4 linked regions of the Homo sapiens genome follow. The protein of the gene in region 1 interacts with the protein of each later gene in a pairwise test. Each region holds a gene or a part of one and is shown in the gene's direction. Other genes may lie near its edges.

Region 1 (4,180 bases):
CTTTAGTTTCCACGGGCTCCCTTGCTCAGCAGTATGCGCACCCTAACGCTACCCTGCACCCACATACTCCACACCCTCAGCCTTCAGCTACCCCCACTGGACAGCAGCAAAGCCAACATGGTGGAAGTCATCCTGCACCCAGTCCTGTTCAGGTAAGGGCAACTCAGAGGTCTGCATGGAGTGGCTTCTTTATCCTAGTATCTGAGTGCTTTCTTCAGGTGCCAGGTATCGCATCGTCAGAACACATGGCATGTCCACCCTCGTGAAGATGGATACAGCTGTGCCCCTGGGGTGGTGGTTTTAAGAATCACATTTAAAGGCTGGGCGCAGTGGCTCACGCCTGTAATCCCACCACTTTGGGAGGCCGAGGCGGGTGGATCACGAGGTCAGGAGATTGAGACCATCCTGGCGAACACTGTGAAACTCCGTCTCTAATAAAAATACAAAAAAATTAGCCGGGCGTGGTGGTGGGCGCCTGTAGTCCCAGCTTCTCGGGAGGCTGAGGAAGGAGAATGGCGTGAACCCGGGAGGCGGAGCTTGCAGTGAGCAGAGATCGCGCCACTGCACTCCAGCTTGGACAACAGCGAGACTCTGTCTCAAAAAAATAAAAAATTAAAAAAAATCACATTTAAGATACATGTTGATAATAAGGTGATTGGATAAGCTCTGGAAACTTGCAGTAATGAAAAATCAAATTTAACATAAAGTTCATAAGGCAAATTCCTATTTGCTTGGGACTTTTTAATTTCTAAGGTTTATGTGATGAGGTTATTTTCCTATGAGCTTCTTGAATTATGTTTGCTAATGGAGGCAGTTAAAGATGTCTTTGATATCTATCAGTTCCCTGGGGCAGTAGTCTTTTTTGACTTTAGTATGTATGCTCAGAAGTTTCTAACTGCCAGACTGAGAATCAGGCTTCTGTACCCTAGAAAGGAGTTGTCCAGATGGGAGGCACCTCCAGCCTTGCTCTTACCACCCTGTACATTCTCCTGTACTTTCCAGTGACCCTCATCATAGGCCCAAGTGTGCAAAGCTTAGCTTTGTGGGTATCCCTTGGCTGCTTTTCATTAAAGAAGTTTTCCTCTCAATTCTTTCCTGTCGCTTTGCAGCACCATCAGCACCAGGCCGCCCAGGCTCTCCATCTGGCCAGTCCACAGCAGCAGTCAGCCATTTACCACGCGGGGCTTGCGCCAACTCCACCCTCCATGACACCTGCCTCCAACACGCAGTCGCCACAGAATAGTTTCCCAGCAGCACAACAGACTGTCTTTACGATCCATCCTTCTCACGTTCAGCCGGCGTATACCAACCCACCCCACATGGCCCACGTACCTCAGGTAATACCAGCTTTAGCCAACTTTCTGTGAAGGCCAAGTAGAATGTGAAGGTTATCAGTAAGCAGCTAGAGGCTCTCCCAGCTAGGAAACCCTGTGTGTCATGCCATTTGCCTGTCTCCCTTTCCCTCTCAAATACACGTGATCTGGCCCTAAGGGAATGTTTGTGTGGTTTTGTCATGGGATCAGTGAAGGTGCTGATTGGTCAGTCCTTTAGTTTTCCAACTGAGACCTTAAAAATATCTTTGACTCTGGAATGCAACCCAGTCCTTCTTTCCTTTCTGTGTCTGCTTTGCTATGTCTATATAGCCTCACTACTATATATATGTGTACATATATATTCCCCTACACACTTACCTTGGAAGCCAGGCAGGGATGATGGCCTTCACAGAGTCTCAGCTCTCCGAAGTGACTACCGGGGCCTGTCAACTTGATTGTTACTCACATGAGTTCCAGACACATCTCTCCAATTGTTTTCCCTGGTTATCCATATATCTGCTTTGACCATAAGTTGTACTCTTGAGAGGGCTTGGCCTTGGACATTGGTGCAGTGTAACTAGAAGCTGGAAGCACCCAGGTGGTCCCATTTTTCTTTAAGAGCAGCCCTGGAAGCACTTTGGAGCTCACCTCCAGTGTAAGCTGCTACAGGTGAAAGGTGTGCTTGCCATCTCAGTGGTTGCTGTCTGCATCAGCTGCTGACAAAGGTCCCTGCACTCCAGGGCCCAGGGGATTGTCTTAATGAGGAGAAGGAGCTGCACTGAAGTTGGGCTCTAACGCTGGCCTTGAGGCCCTCCCTGGGGCTGTTACGGGTGAATTGGCTGTATTAGATGTCTCTGCTACTTTCATAACAGAACTCTCTGAGGCGGGTCTAAGTGAGACCTGCCACAATGAATTCCATTTCCTGTTAAATAGTGCGCCAGTGAGGCTCTGGCAAGGTGTGGGCTAGAGATGCGACTCAGTTGGATCTATCTCTCAGAAGGCTACCTTGTAAGTAGAGTTCCACAGCTCTGGGAAGTTTGGGCGTCCTCACCCTGCAAAGTTTAGGTTCTGTGGTGTAGCGCACTGCAGTTGATTTGCTTTTTGATAGTGGGGAGGGAAGCCGGTTTGGTCCGTGTGGGCCAGCGTGGTTTGGTGGAGTCAGCTTCATAAGAGCTGGGGTCCTGTAGGTGTCTACCAGAGGCTGGTGGCTAAGTAGGCATGTGAACTTACATGTAAGTCAGGGATCCCTAAAACCTCACTCTGTTTTTGTGCTGAAAGGGCAAAAAGGTTAACACAGGGAAGCTCAAATTTGCCATGTGCCCGTTTGAATATGTGAGAGTAAAAACGGCATTTCATCCAAGGCTTATCGTAGTCTAGAACAGTGCACAGTGTGGGAAAAAGGAAACAAGGGCTCTTCCTGGCCCTGCCAACCCCCTGCAGAGCTGGAATCCAGCTGTTTGGGCTGACTAAAATCACCTTTCCAACTTGACAGTGAGTGAGACCAGGTTGAACTTGGTACAGAGACGCTGGGCTGGCCCAGATGACTTCAGGTTACTCCTTTCCATCTCACTGGAGCCATTAAAAACTCCAACTCCTCCTCCTCCTCCTGCTCCATCAGCATATCTCTGAGAGAGTCACGGGGGCCTAAGAGTCTCTTTTCACTGCCTGGTGAGCAGACCAGAAGCAGAGGGAGAGAGGCAAATGAACAGAGGTCCAAGTAATTCACATACTTGACTGTGACAGTCTCTGCTTATTAATGTAATCTGTTTTCCTATTTGAAAGGGATGTTATCTGCAAAACTACCTCAGGCCCCACATGGCAGCCTGATTCTGAAGCATCATTGAATCTTGTATGATATTAAGTTGAGAAAGCTGCCCTTGGATCCAGTGTCTAATCTTTGTGAAGATCTTACCCCATACATAGAATACAATGATCAGAAATGTCAAGGGTTAGGACAGCACAGCCCTGACTTCTACCCAGGCTCACTTGTTGCCTGCTCCCTGACCCTTGCAGGATCTGCCCAAAGGTGAAGCGCGTCTTCAGGTCAATAGATAATCTACTAGAGATTGTCCCCAGAGAACAGAACTGGGCCCTGAGGCCCACCGTTGCCCTTTCCTGAGAGTCCCAGCCCAGTGAAAGGAACACAGTTGACATGTTGTTGAAGCCGGAGATGTTGCCTGTATGCGTAAAAGAGCTCTCTGTTTCAGGCTCATGTACAGTCAGGAATGGTTCCTTCTCATCCAACTGCCCATGCGCCAATGATGCTAATGACGACACAGCCACCCGGCGGTCCCCAGGCCGCCCTCGCTCAAAGTGCACTACAGCCCATTCCAGTCTCGACAACAGCGCATTTCCCCTATATGACGCACCCTTCAGGTGAGGCGTGTGTGTGCAGGGGCCGCCGGGGCACCCCAAAGCATTCTGCTCGCACAGGTGGAATGGCAGGCAGGGCCAGTGCTTCAAGCCCCGCATTTGAGAACTAGCAAGACCCGTCCAGGAGTGTGCACAGGAGGGACTGTGACGATCAGTTCAGCATCAGGGCCTGAGGCTTCCGGGAGCCGAGTCTGTGTGTGTTCTGATGGTATACAGGATTTGGCTTGATGAGAAGCAGCAGCAGCAGCAACAGCAGCCTGATGCATGCCTAGGACTCAGTTGGCCTTCCTTGTTATGACAGGCTGGACAGGGCAGTGTTTTCCTTCCTGAGTCCCAAAAGTCTGACATGTGGGGGGTTATTACCATGGCAGAGTTTGATTGTAGCTCTGGAGAAGATACTGCTGAGAAAGCGCTGTGGATGGACTGGCTTTGAGTGTAGCGTTAGCCCCAGCCCCTGAACAGGGGAGAGCGCCCTGTGATTGTGCTCTACTACT
Region 2 (5,379 bases), on another chromosome or scaffold:
GATATTTAAGACCAGCCTGGCCAACATTGCGAAACCCTGTCTCTACTAAAAATGCAAAAATTAGCTGGGCATGGTGGCGCACAACTGTAATCCCAGCTACTCAGAAGTCTGAGGCACGAGAGTCACTGGAACCCAGGAGGTGGAGGTTGCAGTGAGCCAAGATTGTGCCACTGCACTCCAGCCTGGGTGACAGAGTGAGACTCTCAACTCAAAAAAAAAAAAAAAAAAAAAAAGGCGGCTGAGGTCATGAGAAGTTAAATTAGTTGACATTGCTACTTATAAACTATGGAACTATTTCTTGTGGCAGATGAGTGTTAACAGAATTCCTTGTAGAAACATGAACTTCTGTTTAAAGGCTGTGGATTTTGGGATTTTAAGAGCCTAGGCAGTGGGGAATAAAAAATTTTCATAGTTATATTCAATGTAAGTTAATGGAATTAAGATTTCATCTCTGAAACTTTACATTTTTAGCTTTCGTGATCTGTAATTATCTTTTCTTCCCACTTTCATATGATGTAAATAGAGCCTAGGTAGCAGGAGTTTCCTACCTAGGTATTTTACACAGTGAATCTGACTCAAATGTAGTTGGGGCTTTTAGAAATATTGTTAATAAACTTTGAGCTAATAGTTGCGAACTCAACATGCTGAAAGTTTGTAATTAAGAACAGTATTGGCTGGGTGTGGTGGCTCACGCCTGTAATCCCAGCACTTCGGGAGGCCGAGGCAAGGCAGATCACCTGAGGTCAGGAGTTCAAGACCAGCCTCGCTAACATGGTAAAACCCTGTCTCTACTAAAAATACAAAAATTAGCTGGGTGTGGTGACATGTGCCTGTAGTCCCAGCTACTCAAGGAGGCTGAGGCAGGAGAATTGCTTGAACCTGGGAGGTGGAGGTTGCAGTCAGCCAAGATCATGTCACTGCACTCCAGCCTGGGTAACAGAGCGAGATCTGTCTCAAAACGAAGAAGCAGCAGCAGCAGAAGGCCAGGTGCAGTGACTCACACCTGTAATCCCAGCACTTTGGGAGGCCAAGGCAGGAGGATTGCTTGAGGTCAGGGGTTTGAGACCAGCTGGGCCAACATGATGAATCCCCGTCTCTACTAAAAATACAAAAAATTAGCTGGGTGTGGTGGCGGTTACTCAGTAGGCTGAGGCAGGAGAATTGCTTGAACCTGGGAGGCAGAGGTTGCAGTGGGCCGAGATGGCAGCCACTGCACTTCAGCCTGGACAACAGAGCAAGACTCCATCTCAAAAAAAAGAAGAGGAAGAGTTTAATATTTATATAATAGTATTGCTGAGGGAGAGTCTAAATCTGGGACACTATAATAGGTTCTCTTTTCATAAAGAGATTTGTACATTTGAGTTTTCATAATGTCCTGTGTAATGATTCAACTTTTTATTTTTATTTCTTAATTTTTTTGGCGGGGGAGACAGAGTCTTGCTGTGTCACCCATTCTGGAGTGTGGTGTCATGATCATAGCTTAATGCAGTCTTAATCTCCCAGGCTGATGTGATCCTCCTGCCTCAGCCTCCCCAGAAGCTGAGACTATAGGCACATGCCACCATTCCCAGCTAATTTTTTTCATTTTTTTTTTTAGTAGAGATGGGGTCTTGCTATGTTGCCCAGGCTGGTCTTAAACTCCTGAGCTCAAACGATCCTCCTGCCTCAGCCTCCAAAAGTGCTGGGATTCTAGGCATGAGTTACTCACTGTGCTGCCCAGCCCAATTTTTTAATACATCTCGGTATCTAGATTATAAGGGGCAGTGTTTCTTTTCTTTTTTTTTATTTGAGACGGAGTTTCGCTCTTGTTGCCTGGACTGGAGTGCAGTGGCACAATCTCGGCTCACCACAATCTCTGCCTCTCGGGTTCAAGCGATTCTTCTGCCTCAGCCTCCCAAGTAGCTGGGATTACAGGCATGTGCCACCCACGCCCAGCTAATTTTGTATTTTTAGTAGAGATAGGGTCAGGCTGGTCTCAAACTCCCGGCCTCAGGTGATCCACCCACCTTGGCCTCCCAAAGTGCTGGGCTTATAGGTAGGTGTGAGCCACCGTGCCTAGGCTATTTTTTTTTTCTTTCTTTCTTTTGAGACTGAGTCTCACTCTGTCGCCCAGGCTGGAGTGCAGTGGCGCGATCTTGCCTCACTGCAGCCTCTGCCTCCGGGTTCAAGTGATTCTCCTGCCTCAGCCTCCTGAGTAGGTGGGACTACAGGTGCGTGCCACCACGCCTGGATAATTTTTGTATTTTTAGTACAGATGGGGTTTCACCATGTTGGTCAGGCTGCTCTCGAACTCCTGACCTCAGGTGATCTGCCCACCTTGGCCTCCCAGAGTGCTGGGATTACAGGCGTGAGCCACTGCATCATAAGGTGCAGTTACAGGTGTGAGCCACTGCATCATAAGGCGCAGTATTTCTATAGCTTCTTAAATTTTGTAAATAATGATGTATAGCATGTTCTCCCACCTCACCCCATATTTTCTTATATATTCCTTGATACTGTTTCAGCAATGGTGATTGTTCCCACTAGAGAACTTGCTCTACAGGTCAGTCAAATTTGCATCCAGGTCAGCAAACACATGGGAGGGGCCAAAGTGATGGCAACCACAGGAGGAACCAATTTACGAGATGACATAATGAGGCTTGATGATACAGGTAAGAAATGATTACTAAAAGGTAGTGTAGCTCTCTGTTATTTTAGTCACAAGTATTTCAGTAAATTATTAAAAATTGTTTTTAAGAATTAAGGAACAGAAATACTGCAGTAAGAAAAGGAAATGACCACTGCATTCAAGCGAAAAAGACAAATTACCATAATTGAAAACGATATTTGACTTTATTAGTAATTGTAAAACAGCAAGTTTATAATAATTTTACCTGTTTAATTGGTAAAGCTAAAAGTATTAGTAGACGATAATGTGAGTTTGTGGACAAATAGGCTACATTGTAAATGTGGGGGTGTAAACTTACATCTCTATCATGGGCAATTTGGGAGTATATTTTAAAATTATAAATGTATATATAATGTGTGTGTGTGTGTGTATATTTTTTTTTTTTTTGGAGATGGAGTCTTGCTCTGTTGCCCAGGCTGGAGTGCAGAGGCGCAATCTTGACTCACTGCAATCTCCGCCTCCCAGGTTCAGGCCATTCTCCTGTCTCAGTCTCCTGAATAGCTGGGATTACAGGCTCCCGCTACCACGCCAGGCTAAATTTTTGTGTTTTTAGTAGAGACGGGGTTTCACCGTATTAGCCAGGATGGTCTCGATCTCCTGACCTCGTGATCCACCTGCCTCAGCCTCCCAAAGTGCTGGGATTACAGGCGTGAGCCACCGTGCCCGGCCATAAATGTATATTTTTAAGAATCTTTCCTGAAGAAAAAAGTTGGGTAAATGCAGGGCTGTAGGTACAAAGTTGTTTGCTATGGGGTGGTATTGTCGTGCCGAAAAATTGGCCAACTTAGAAGGAGATTGGCTAACTAAATACGTTAAGGTATAATCTGAATAGGATTCTACATAGTCATTAAAGAGTAAAGTTGACCTGTATTCATTTTCATGAAGAGGTTTCATGATACATTGCCGAGTGGAAAAAGGTAACAAAACAGCAAGAATGAGATCACTCATATAAAATTATATCTTGATTTTAGTTAGAATATTATATATGATAATTATGTGATACATTCTTTGTATTGCATAGGTTTTTAAAAAATTATCTTGTTTGATCCTTTTAACAATACTCGGCTCACTGCTCTAGATTAGAGGCATTGCTCTTATGTCAGAAGTCTGGTGTGCCTTCTGCTATTAATTGAGAATTATCCTAAGACAAGAAAGTATGCCTACTGTTGAAAGCAGCAGGTGATTTAGGAAGCTGTACCCCACCCAATGTAGAGGTGAAACAAATATTTTTTAAGCATCCTGTGGTGAAATGGAAGTCTTTATCCTAAAACACATCTTTGTGCCTTTTTGTGTTATTTCCACCTCTATAACACAATGTGTTTCTTCTCTTTCTTTCTTTTTTTTTTTTTTTTTAATTTGAGACACAGTCTTACTCTGTTGCTCTGGCTAGAGTGCAGTGGTGTGATCTCGGCTCACTGCAACGTCTGCCTCCTGGGTTCAAGCGATTCTCCTACCTCAGCCTCCTGAGTAGCTGGGATTACAGGCTCCCACCACCACACCCAGCTAATTTTTGTATTTTTAGTAGAGACAGGGTTTCACCGTGTTGGCCAGGCTGGTCTCGAACTCCTGACCTCATGTGATCCACCCACCTCGGCCTCCCAAAGTACTGGGATTACAGGGATGAGCTACTGCACCCGGCCTAGTTGTTTCTAATAAAAGATAGTCATGTGCTGCATACAATGTTGTGGTCAGTGACGGCTGCACGTATGTCGGTGTTCCCATAAGATTATAATGGAGCTATACAATGGAGTAGGCTATACCATCACATAGCAATGCATTTCTCAGAATTATCATTAAGCAGCTCAGGACTGTAATATTATAAACCTTTATCCTCTTTGCTCAAATTAAAATTAATGAGAATGTATGTTTTCTAAATCTTGCATAGTGCACGTGGTGATTGCTACCCCTGGGAGAATCCTGGATCTTATTAAGAAAGGAGTAGCAAAGGTTGATCATGTCCAGATGATAGTATTGGATGAGGTAATGTCTCTTCATTTGGCATTATACTGTTCTGTACTTTTCTGTGCTTTGCTTATAACTGCCAGTGAATGAAGCAAAAGCTGCTTGTGTTTATGATCTAATAAACACATAAACAATCAGTTTAAATTAATTTGCTTATAAAATGTGTTTTACCCGTCAGAGGGAGTAGATTATAGGCATTCATTGGAATTCAGCATTTTGTCTTTTTCTTAGAGATAGCAGACATTAGGTTTTAATTTTTTAGTAGAGGAGTGAATAACCTCAATGCCAAATTTATTCTAAGTCTCTTTCTGCTCTGTGATTAATTTTTAAAAGCATATAATATATATTGTCTCTTCTCATTTTGTGCATACTACTTTGTACTGTTTGGTTTTTAATCTCTGTTACATGTATTATCTCACCATGTTATAAATGCCTTTTAAAAACTTATTAAAATCTGTAGTCCTGGGATCTAGCCATGTTTTGTACATGTACAGATGGTCCCTGACTTAAGATGGTTCACTTTACAGTTTTTCAGTGGAAGTGATAAGCTTTCATTAGAAACTGTACTTTGAATTTTTAAGATTGATATTTTTCCTGGTTAGTAATATGCTATATGATACTCCCATGATGCTGGGCATCAGCAGCAAACTGCAGCTCCCAGTCAGCCACATGATGATTGAGGGCAGACAGCCGATACTCTACAGTATACGGCGTTGCAGGTGATTTTGCCCAACTGTAAGCTAAGGTAA
Region 3 (5,379 bases), on another chromosome or scaffold:
TTACAAAAATCTTTACTGAAAGGTAGGGCATTGTAAGAGAGTTAACTTCATTTTGCAGATACACTCAGAGGGGTTAAAAATTTGCAGGTACATATGCACATGACTATTAAGTGATAAAACAAGTCTCAAAGCTGTTTTTACCCTTTCTTTCTTTTTTTTTGAGACAGTCTTACTCTGTTGCCCAGGCTGGAGTGCAGTGGTGAGATCATAGCTTACTACAGCCTTGACCTCCAGGGCTCAAGTGATCCTCCTGCCTCAGCTTCCTACATAGCTAGGACTACAGGCATGCACTACCATGCCCAGCTAAGTTTATATGTGTGTGTGTGTGTGTGTGTGTGTGTGTGTGTGTGTGTGTATTATTTATTTATTTATTTTTAGTAGGTGGAGTCTCGCTCTGTCACCGAGCCTGGAATGCAGTGGTGAGAGCTCACTGCAGCCTCTGCCTCCCAGGTTCCGGTGATCCTCCTGCCTCAGCCTCCTGAGTAGCTGGGACTATGGGTGCGCACCACCACCATGCCTGGCTCTTTTTTTTTCTGGAGACAGAGTTTTGCTCTTGTTGACCAGGCTGGAGTGCAGTGGCGCTATCTCGGCTCACCACAACCTCTGTCTCCCAGGTTCAAGTGGTTCTCCTGCCTTAGTCTCCCGAGTAGCTAGGATTACAGGCATGCGCCACCATGCCTGGCTAATTTTGTGTTTTTGGTGGAGACGGTTTCCCTGTGTTGGTCAGGCTGGTCTCGAACTTCCGACTTCAGGTGATCCGCCCACCTTGGCCTCCCAAAGTGTTGGGATTACAGGCGTGAGCCACCGTGCCCAGCCTTTTTTTGTATTTTTATATTTGGTTAATTTCTTTCTACCCCATAGAATAAAACTGACATAAAACATAACAAAAAGAAAAAAGCATAGGCCAGGCATGGTGGCTTATGCCTGTAATTCTAGCACTTTGAGAGGCTGAGGTGGGCGGATCACTTGAGGTCAGGAGTTCAAGACCAGCCTGGCCAATATGGCAAAGCCTTCTCTCTATACTAAAAATACAAAAAAAGGCGGAGGTTGCAGTGAGCTAAGATTGCGCCATGGCACTCCAGCCTGAGCAACAGCACAAGACTCTGTCTTAAAAAAAAAAATGTATTTATCTGGAAGACAAATGTCAAATCTTAATAGTGGTTATCCCTGGATTAGAGCATTTTGGTGTGTTGCTTTCCTGGTAGAATATTGTTTTAATGAAAATGGATCAAAGGAGGACATAGATGGGTGAAAACCATGAGGAATTGACTTTGACATTCTTAATTGCATCAGCAGAAATAGTTAAAAAGTACTTCTAAAACCACTTGCATGAACTAGGTGTTTAAGGGGAACCGCTCACGCTTATTCTCAGATACATTAATAAAAGGACACTTGAAGTCTATGAAGAAGATAGCTGTTCCAGCCTTACCGCACATTTTCTTCCTGAGTGAAAATAGGAACTTATGTATTGGTGGCCATCTTGACATGAAACTACAAGATCCTTCCCAACAGTATCATCCTACACTGAAACCTGGAACCAAATCCATTCCCATTCAGCAAATGTTGATCAAGTGGCATGTAGGGGATACAGAGATGATTGCATACAAAGATGAAAAAGAAAACGTTTCTGCCAGGGCCAGGCGCGGTGACTCACACCTACAATTCCAGCACTTTGGGAGGCCAAGGCAGGTAGAATTGCTTGAGTTTGAGTTCGAGACCAGCCTGGGCAACATAGTTGACCTTATCTCTACTTAAATAAAAATAATCAGCCAGGCATGGTGGCATGTGACTGTAGTTCCAGCTACTTTGGGAAGCTGAGGTGCCATTGCACTCCAGCCTGGTCAGCAAGAGCAAAAAAAAAAAAAAAAAAAATGTGCACATCAAAGATCATAGCCCCGGCACATCGAAGCTGCAATGAGCTATGATTGCATCACTGCACTCCAGCCTGGGTGACAGAATGAGACCCCGTTGCAAAAAAAAAAAAAAAAGTTTGCCAGTATCAGACGTGAAAAATAAACTTAAGATACTTGAAGATGACAAGTAAATCATCTTCCCATTTTACAGATTTTATGGAAAGAACTCTTCTTATGTCCATGGGGGATTGGATTCAAATGGAAAGCCAGCAGATGCAGTCTACGGACAGAAAGTAAGCATTTCAAGCCTTATTTAGGCTGTTAAGCAGGTAGAAAATAACTCATAAAATTGAAGTGGATCATACTTAATAGATTTGCTGATAAAGATCCAGTTTCTCAACTTTTTAGTAAAAGTTGATGTGTTTTATTACTATTTGATTAATATATTTGTTGAAATACTTATGTGATGTCAGATTTGTTAATTTTGTATGATATATTCTAAAGCTTTTGTGTGTTGGAAGATAATTGGCTTTAGCATGGGGATCATCTTTTCTAAACTTTGAAAAGTGTGTTAATTCAGGACAGTTATTTAAAAAACTCAAGCGCGGTCACTGGGAATAGAGTATACAAAGAAACATCAAAATTCAGTCTGCATATCCTGTAATTTAAATATACACATTCTCTTTGTGTTGTGTTGGAAGGTTTTTTTTAGTTGGAGGTTATTTAAATTTTAAGGCATTCTCAGTTGATTATTATTATTATTATTATTTTTTTAAGGAAATCCACAGGAAAGTGATGTCACAAAACTTCACCAACTGCCACACCAAGATTCGCCATGTTGATGCTCATGCCACGCTAAATGATGGTGTGGTAGTCCAGGTGATGGGGCTTCTCTCTAACAACAACCAGGCTTTGAGGAGATTCATGCAAACGTTTGTCCTTGCTCCTGAGGTATGTGTAGGAATGATTATTTTGTAGTGATCCAATACATGAAAAAAGAAACAATGAACTGTTGTGCATATCTTTAAAAACACTTGAAATTTCAGACTTACAGAAAACTTGGAATAATAGTACACTAACTCCTATATACTCCTTACCTAGAGCAGCTGTCACCACTTGCCCACATGTGTATAATTCTTTCTCTAAAATAGTTTAGTGGGCATTTCCTAAGAATAATTCTCTTCCATTCTGTAGTACAGTTATCAAATTCAGGAAATGTTGATGCAATATAATCTATAATCCATTTTTAAAATTTGGAAATTATCTCAATAATGTCTTAACAGTAATTTTTTTTCCTTGTCCAACATGGAATCTATAATTACACATTGCATTTAGCTATCATGTCTCTAGTCTCTTCTAATCTGCACTTGTTCCTTAATCTTTTGTTTTTTTTTATTGCATTGACATTTTTGAAGAGCACACTTTTTTTGTAGGATGCTTTATGGGTGTCATTCAGTGCTTCACATTAGGCATATTATGTCATTTAGTTGTGATATGAATTTTGATTAGTTAGGTTTTGCCACTGTAAAGTTAAATATCTTTTCTCTCTCTCTCTTTTTTTTTGAGACGGAGTCTCACTGTATCGTCCAGGCTGGAGTGCAGTGGCTCCATCTCTGCCCACTGCAACCTCCGCCTCCTGGTTTCAGGCTGTCCTCCTGACTCAGCCTCCCGAGTAGCTGGGACTATAGGCGTGTGCTACCGTACTCGGCTGATTTTAGTATTTTTAGTAGTGATGGGGTTTCACCATATTCGTCAGGCTGGTCTCTAACTCCTGACCTCAAGTGATCTGCCTGCCTCAGCCTCCGAAAGTGGGATTACAGGTGTGAGCCACCATGCCCAGCCTTATTTTTTCTCTTTTTGATTTGTAAATGAAGGATGGGAGATTCTCTATCTTTTTATCTTTCTTGAACACTTATGGCAAAATATTTTCCAGGTTCATCTTGCACTGTTCCTGGCCCAGTCCCTATTCTTGAATCAGCTGTTCCTTCAAGGAGGCCTGGTTCTTTTTAGTTATACTTATGAAAGGACGACAAGTTTATGTTGAATGATTGCATTTGTGTTTTCTTCCGGATTGGTCTAGACTGAACAAGGTTAGGAATCCTGTCTGCTTAAGCATGTATATAGAAATGGCATAGTAAGAAATTGTTGATTAAATCATTGTTTTCTCTAGCATTAATCTTAAGTTTTCTTTTTAGGATAGCAAACCTGAAACGCCTAAAATCTTTTAACCTTTGAATATGAGATAACTTTTTGTCTGTGCAAAATTACATGAAGCCAATTATAGTCATAATTTTTAGAGGAAGGCTTAGATTAAAATGTAAAGATGTGGTAGACTTCTAAATATGCAAAGAATCACATGGAGTATGATTGTGAATTACAGGTTTAATTACAGTTTTTTTCTTTTAAAGGAAGTATCTAACTTCTTAGTATAATACACTATTATATAAACTGTCTCATTTAATACAGAGAGTATTGAGGTATATGTTGATATCTTTCTTTTTTGTTTTTTGAGAGAAGAGTCTCCCTGTGTTACCCAGGCTGGAGTGCAGTGGTAGGATCATGACTTACTGCAGCCTTGACTGCCTGGGCTGAAATGATAATCCCACCTGAGCCTCCTAAGTAGCTGGGACCACAAGTGCAGGCCACCATTCCTGGCTGATTTTTGTTTCTGCTTTTGTGGAGACTCACTCTACAAAAAACTCACTGTTGCCCAGGCTAGTCTCAAACTCCTGGGCTTAAGCAGTTCTCCTACCTCAGCTCTCCAAAGTGTTGGGATTTCAGGAGTGAGCCACTGTGCCTAGCTGGTACCTTTCTTTTTACAGAGGAGTAACAGCCTTAGAAACTGAATAACTCATAATATATAATTGGATCTGCACTCAGGTGTGTCTTATACCTACTGCGAGCAATCTTTTTCAGGCTGCACTACCCTTGAGTGTTTATATCAATATTTTTGGAGACAGACTTGGGGAATTTTAAATATCTGCTGAAGTTAGGAATATGATTGCCTTTTTTTTTGAGACAAGGTCTTACTCTGTCGCCCAGGCTGGAGTGCAGAGGTGCAGTCTGGGCTTACTGCACCCTCCACCTCCCGGGTTCAAGCAATCCTCCCGCCTCAGCCTCCCTAGCAGCTGGGACTACAGGTGTGGGCCATTATGCCTGTCTCATTTTTGTATTTTTAGTAGAGATGGGGTTTCACCATATTGGCCAGGCTGGTCTTGAACTCCTGACCTTAGGTGATCTGCCTGCCTCGGCCTCCCAAAGTGCTGGGATTGCAGGCATGAGCCACTGTGCCCATCCGGGATATGATTGCCTTATAATGTTTTGAGGTGTGGGCTGTGGCATTTACATGCTTAGGGCTTTGTCAGTTTTTGGATATTTATCTTGTGGTGAGGTAAAGTGTTCTGAGCAAACAAAATGTATGTGAGTGTAGTCTTTTTACCGGCTATTGTAGAGTGGGCATTTTCAGTCTTGGCACTGTTGACATTTTGGATTAACTAATTCTTTGTTGTGGGAGCCTGTCCTGTGC
Region 4 (6,015 bases), on another chromosome or scaffold:
GAACATATATGGAGAGACAGCAAGAGACCCTTCAGGCTTGAATTAAAGCCCTCACCATGCTCACGCCCAAATGGATTATTTGGGTGTTTAAAGCTTCTGATTCTTACTACACCCTGCCCTACTTCGGGTACTCCATGTGCCTGTCCCCTCCCTTGGGTTTCCCAGGCCAGCTTAGGTAGTAGGGAGGAACTGGAGCTACCCTGAGATTTTCTCAAGTTCCCAGGCAAGTTATGCCAGCGTTGCCTCCCTGTCCTGGGCAGGGGCCACTTGTTATTTTATTTATTTTTAATTTATAATTTATTCAAATTGGATTGCCTTGGTAACCTCCCACACCTGATAATTGGCATCACTCCTCCCCGCTTCCCACTCTCAGATATTGCTCCAACCTCAGGAGTTGAAGAGGCTTATGCGGTGGGGGCAGGAGGAGAACTGCTTTCCCTCAGCTGAGGGAAGAGGGGCTATTCCAGAGGGACTGAGTCAGTAGCCAAAGACTCAGCTTCCCCTGTCCTTCCCCAGTCCCTTCACTTCCCCTACCCTCTGACCTATCTCTGAAAGCCAAGTTATGCGTATGTGTGTGTGCACAAGCTTGTCTTTGTGTGGTATGTGTGTGTGAGTGTGCATGTATGCACACACACAGGGGTTAACCACCCCTCACCTAGGGCTCCAGACTCCAGTTGTCCCTCTCCTCCTACCTGTGTCTCCTTGTTTTGGGGTCCTGACTGAAGAAGGTGTCCAGGGGGCAGAGTCAGGGCCAAGCACTGGGGTGCCTCCTCTCACCTGGCCAGACTCTGACCCACCTACCTCAGCTGGGGTGAGGGGCACCCCTCAAACTCAGTCATGTGGTTCCAAACTACCCCATTCCCCACTCCAGACTCTGACCCAGCCTCAGTCCTAACTCCTGGGGCTGGGCTGAGGGGAACAAGCATTTGCTGAAACTTGAAAAAACAAAGCAAATCAAAAACAGGAAAAAATTGTACCTGGTACTTTTTTTTAGAAAAAAAGATTAAAAAAGAAAGAATAAATTCTTGTTTGGAAACTTGAACTAAGCTCTACTTTTGTTGTTGTTGTTGTTGTTGGGGAGAGGGTGTGAAGGGGGATGGAGGGCCTTCCTGGAGCTGGGACTCAGCCCTTTCTACCAGAGAGGCAACAGGCCTGGGCCCATGAGGTCTTAGGCTAGTCCCTGCTGATTCCTGGGGCCTGGTTTTTCTCCTTTCGGAGGGGTTGGTGGGTAAAGTTCAGCCGTAGAAGCTGAACTCTGAATTGTAGATCAGGATTCTAATACTGGTTCTATTAATGACTTTAGCCCCTCAGAACTTCAGTGCCCTCATATGTAAAATGGAGGTGACTACGGAGGTCTCTTGACTACCAGAGCATTAGGGATGTGGGCAAGGTGACATGCTCCAGACAAGGTTGAACGTTGAGGCTGTTTGCTGGACTGTATTTAAGACCGGGCATAACAAACCTTGCTTGGGAAGACAGGGAAGGAGCTGCAGTGTCTTTGAGGAAAGAGGGGAGGGGAAAATCTCGGCCCAATCGCCAGGCAATATTAGGCCCAGTTTCCATGGCAACGGGATTGGGGTCAGTCCCCAGTGGGAGTCCTGGGCACAACACAGCGGGACTACCAGAGAATATCACTATGGCAACCATGGCAACGAGTCAGCTCCAATCCACTAGTCGCTATGGTGACAGATGGGGGCGATACTACGCTCTGGTGGGCAAACTGAGTCTCGGGTGAGGACGAATAATTCAGTGCGTGGTGTCTGAGTGATAATGCCCGCGAAAAATAGCCTCCATTTTGGCCATCAGGCCGGGGATCTTCGGCGTGAACAGCTAAACCCAGAACAACCACAGCCTTCGCCCTTCTCTAGAAGGTCTGCGTTTCCCAGGGAACAACTTGACGCGCCGTTCGACCAAGTAACGCTGATTGGGTGAGTGTTGAAGCGGGGGAGGGAGCTGCCGGAAGTACATCCGGGGGAGCGGAACTGCAAGAGGAAAGGCTCGGGTAGGCTTCTGGGAGCGACCGCTCCGCTCGTCTCGTTGGTTCCGGAGGTCGCTGCGGCGGTGGGAAATGCTGGCGCGCGCGGCGCGGGGCACTGGGGCCCTTTTGCTGAGGGTGAGAGCGAGGCAACCTTTCCAGAGGGTCAGGACAGAGATTACCTGGGTTCTCCGCTGGAAAAGAGCGAAATTCCAACTTTTGGAGAGGACTGGGGTCAGAGGTCATGGTCCCCATGTGATTCTCCGAGGATCCTGAGGGTCGTGGTTTATGGAGATGCCTTCAGGACCGAGGGGCGGCGTGTCTGGCCAGATGGGATCTCTGCTCACCCTCTTCTTTCCTTCAGGGCTCTCTACTGGCTTCTGGCCGCGCTCCGCGCCGCGCCTCCTCTGGATTGCCCCGAAACACCGTGGTACTGTTCGTGCCGCAGCAGGAGGCCTGGGTGGTGGAGCGAATGGGCCGATTCCACCGGATCCTGGAGCCTGTGAGAAACCTCTTCTGCCCACCCTGGGCCAGCCAGATGACCAATCCCTCACGACATGCAATGTCGGGAGGACTTCCTTTGGGCCTGCCCGCACTGTTAGCTCCCGACTCTGTAGGCCAGACCTGACAGGGCCCAGGCTGCTGACCATCATCCCCATGTTACCACCTTTTCCTATGCATCTCACAGGCCCCATTCTTGGGAATCTCCCCTGCCCACTCTCAGCCCTACCTCTCAGTCTGCATAGAGATGGCTATTCTGCTGGCTCCGATTCTCATGACTCTCCCCTCCATTCAGGGGCCTAGTCTTGCATTCCTGTTCTCTTGGGTTTTCTTACCAGTGACACCTCAGCCTTCTGAGGACTTATTTCTTGGTAGGAGCTGCTGCTTTTCTGGGCATGTTCCATGTGTTGACTCCCTACATACTCCAGGACTAGCTTAGGTCCCAACCCAATAGTTCCCAGCCTTCTGAGGACCCATGACTCCTCTTTCCAGGGTTTGAACATCCTCATCCCTGTGTTAGACCGGATCCGATATGTGCAGAGTCTCAAGGAAATTGTCATCAACGTGCCTGAGCAGTCGGCTGTGACTCTCGGTGAGGGGTTCAGGGTGACATGGGTGCTCTGAGGCTATTAGGATGTGGTTGCTGTAGATCCAGAGCTTAGTAGAAAGAACTGGTTGGGACCTAGAGGCCTGACTTTCCCCGTTTTCTCTCCTGGTTCTACAGACAATGTAACTCTGCAAATCGATGGAGTCCTTTACCTGCGCATCATGGACCCTTACAAGGTACCTGTCCCCTACTTTATCCAGCCTTTTGAGTTGCCCTCTTCACTAAAATCTTGTGCCCAAGCTTCTTACACTATCCGTGTCCATCTCAGGCAAGCTACGGTGTGGAGGACCCTGAGTATGCCGTCACCCAGCTAGCTCAAACAACCATGAGATCAGAGCTCGGCAAACTCTCTCTGGACAAAGTCTTCCGGGTAAGCAGATCTGAGCCAGAGTTAGGGTTTGAAGACACAAACCTGACACTCTTAATCTTTTCTGAAGGTCAAGATCAGTCCCAGGCCCTTCTCAGTGTAGGCCCTTGATAGGTAGGTTGAGGCTGTGGGGCTTACACCTCTTTTTCCAGGAACGGGAGTCCCTGAATGCCAGCATTGTGGATGCCATCAACCAAGCTGCTGACTGCTGGGGTATCCGCTGCCTCCGTTATGAGATCAAGGATATCCATGTGCCACCCCGGGTGAAAGAGTCTATGCAGATGCAGGTGGGGGCCAAGGAGGGGTGGGAAAAGGGCCTCAGGGTGCTCCAGTACCAGGAGGATCCAGACTTCCCTCCTGTTATGATGGGTAGAGTTGCATGTCTGTATCAGTCTCCCTTGGCTTGTTGATTGGGATTGTTGTGGGCTTCCAGGTGGAGGCAGAGCGGCGGAAACGGGCCACAGTTCTAGAGTCTGAGGGGACCCGAGAGTCGGCCATCAATGTGGCAGAAGGGAAGAAACAGGCCCAGATCCTGGCCTCCGAAGCAGAAAAGGCTGAACAGATAAATCAGGCAGCAGGTCAGGAGAGGGTAGAGGCTGAGGGAGGAGCAAGGCATGGGCCTTTGAAGATTGGTGCTGGGGCAGGATCTTTGGGGTACTTTGACTTCATGGGTCAAGCAAGCTCTGTCCCTTCTCTTGCAGGAGAGGCCAGTGCAGTTCTGGCGAAGGCCAAGGCTAAAGCTGAAGCTATTCGAATCCTGGCTGCAGCTCTGACACAACATGTGAGAGGCCCCTGGGTGGGAATGGGGACAGGAATTGACAGTGGAAGGGGTTCTCTTATCTACGCTTGAGGAGAGTTCCGCCTCTGTGGGCTCTGTTGAGCCAGATTACATGGTCCTTTTTATTGTGAACTGCTTTCTTCATTCCCCATCCCCCCCTTCTTCTCCGTATCGGTGATCTCTGATTTTTATCCCCCTGTGATCACAGAATGGAGATGCAGCAGCTTCACTGACTGTGGCCGAGCAGTATGTCAGCGCGTTCTCCAAACTGGCCAAGGACTCCAACACTATCCTACTGCCCTCCAACCCTGGCGATGTCACCAGCATGGTGGCTCAGGTTAGAGCTCTCTGAGGACCCAGCATAGAGCACTGGTGCCAGGGACCAAACTGAGACCCCACCACCGTCATCAACACTTACATACCATAAAGGTCTTCAGAGTGCCTTGGCCCTAGACCTCCCTTCATTCTTTGTAGAGATGGAATCTAAGAATGAAACATCTCCACTCAGTCCTGCAAATATGGAAGTTCTTGAGATACCTTTTTTTGGTAGATACTTGTGCTGGTATTCTGAGAGTCACTTTACTCTGATGGTTTGCAAGATTCCTAAAATCAACTCCAGAGCTTACAAGACAGGTTTGAGAGAGGGAGAAAGGAAAACCAACTTACTGGCCCCCATGCCATCTTTTCCCGTTTAGCCATTGGTAGGCTGGGCTGCACCTCTGTCAAGTGTCCTCATGGTATTCTCTCTGTTCCTCTCCTCAGGCCATGGGTGTATATGGAGCCCTCACCAAAGCCCCAGTGCCAGGGACTCCAGACTCACTCTCCAGTGGGAGCAGCAGAGATGTCCAGGGTACAGATGCAAGTCTTGATGAGGAACTTGATCGAGTCAAGATGAGTTAGTGGAGCTGGGCTTGGCCAGGGAGTCTGGGAACAAGGAAGCAGATTTTCCTGATTCTGGCTCTAGCTTCCCTGCCAAGATTTTGGTTTTTATTTTTTTATTTGAACTTTAGTCGTGTAATAAACTCACCAGTGGCAAACCAGAAACTGTCCTCTTTGATTGGGGAATGAAGTTGGGAAAGTCACTAGCATTTTCCTTGGATCCAGTCCTGTCAGCATGATGCCTCCATGAATAAGAGTGAACTTCTTGTAAAGTGAAACTATCATTTTTGTCTTCAAGAGAAACTGTGGGATAGGGTGGAAGTGTTAAACCATATGTTCACTGAACTGCTGGCTGGGAAGTGAAGTCCCCTTCCTGCTAAGTGTGGGGCTGTGTGTTTGAGGCAGGTGTTTGGGGGTTTTTTCGTGGGAAAGAAGTACTTTCATGAGAAACTACTACCCTGCACTGGCATACTTAAAGGGTTTTCAGGGACTGAGGGTGCTCCTCATTCATTTATTCAAAAACATTGAATGTCTACCAAGTGCCAAGCTCATTACTAGACACTGGATTACAAAAATACCTGAAACCCAGTGGTCCCTGCTTTCACAGAATACAAGGTCAGGTAGGGAAAACAGACAGGAAGCAGACAGTGATAGAAAGTGATAAATGTGGCCGGGCGTGGTGGCTCAACACCCGTAATCCCAGCACTTTGGGAGGCTGAGGTGTGCAGATCATGAGGTCAGGAGATTGAGACCATCCTGGCCAATATGGTGAAACCCCGTCTACTAAAAATACAAAAACTAGCTGGGCGTGGTAGCATGTGCGGGTAGTCCCAGTTGCTTGGGAGGCTGAGGCAGGAGAATTGCATGAACCTGGGAGGTGGAGGCTGCAGTGAGCCGTGATCACGCCA

The links. Proteins that work in one complex are often made in the same cells at the same time.
Region 2: the proteins of ATXN2 (region 1) and DDX6 interact in binary tests that used the Homo sapiens proteins (3 or more experiments, as listed by UniProt).
Region 3: the proteins of ATXN2 (region 1) and G3BP1 interact in binary tests that used the Homo sapiens proteins (3 or more experiments, as listed by UniProt).
Region 4: the proteins of ATXN2 (region 1) and STOML2 interact in binary tests that used the Homo sapiens proteins (3 or more experiments, as listed by UniProt).

Annotation. Positions count from the first base shown.
Region 1 is NC_000012.12:111,453,186-111,457,365, reverse strand, and holds part of ATXN2 (ataxin-2), read left to right. Parts: intron 1-6; coding exon 7-152; intron 153-1,109; coding exon 1,110-1,337; intron 1,338-2,246; coding exon of another isoform or gene 2,247-2,321; intron 2,322-3,520; coding exon 3,521-3,689; intron 3,690-4,180. UniProt on the Homo sapiens protein: Involved in EGFR trafficking, acting as negative regulator of endocytic EGFR internalization at the plasma membrane.
Region 2 is NC_000011.10:118,762,481-118,767,859, reverse strand, and holds part of DDX6 (probable ATP-dependent RNA helicase DDX6), read left to right. Parts: intron 1-2,504; coding exon 2,505-2,651; intron 2,652-4,553; coding exon 4,554-4,648; intron 4,649-5,379.
Region 3 is NC_000005.10:151,788,259-151,793,637, forward strand, and holds part of G3BP1 (ras GTPase-activating protein-binding protein 1), read left to right. Parts: intron 1-2,064; coding exon 2,065-2,146; intron 2,147-2,630; coding exon 2,631-2,804; intron 2,805-5,379. UniProt on the Homo sapiens protein: Protein involved in various processes, such as stress granule formation and innate immunity. Plays an essential role in stress granule formation.
Region 4 is NC_000009.12:35,099,148-35,105,162, reverse strand, and holds STOML2 (stomatin-like protein 2, mitochondrial), read left to right. Parts: upstream 1-2,031; 5' UTR 2,032-2,068; coding exon 2,069-2,113; exon of another isoform or gene 2,114-2,339; coding exon 2,340-2,477; exon of another isoform or gene 2,478-2,968; coding exon 2,969-3,068; exon of another isoform or gene 3,069-3,200; coding exon 3,201-3,259; exon of another isoform or gene 3,260-3,351; coding exon 3,352-3,453; exon of another isoform or gene 3,454-3,602; coding exon 3,603-3,737; exon of another isoform or gene 3,738-3,883; coding exon 3,884-4,028; exon of another isoform or gene 4,029-4,151; coding exon 4,152-4,231; exon of another isoform or gene 4,232-4,436; coding exon 4,437-4,565; exon of another isoform or gene 4,566-4,990; coding exon 4,991-5,128; 3' UTR 5,129-5,385; downstream 5,386-6,015. UniProt on the Homo sapiens protein: Mitochondrial protein that probably regulates the biogenesis and the activity of mitochondria.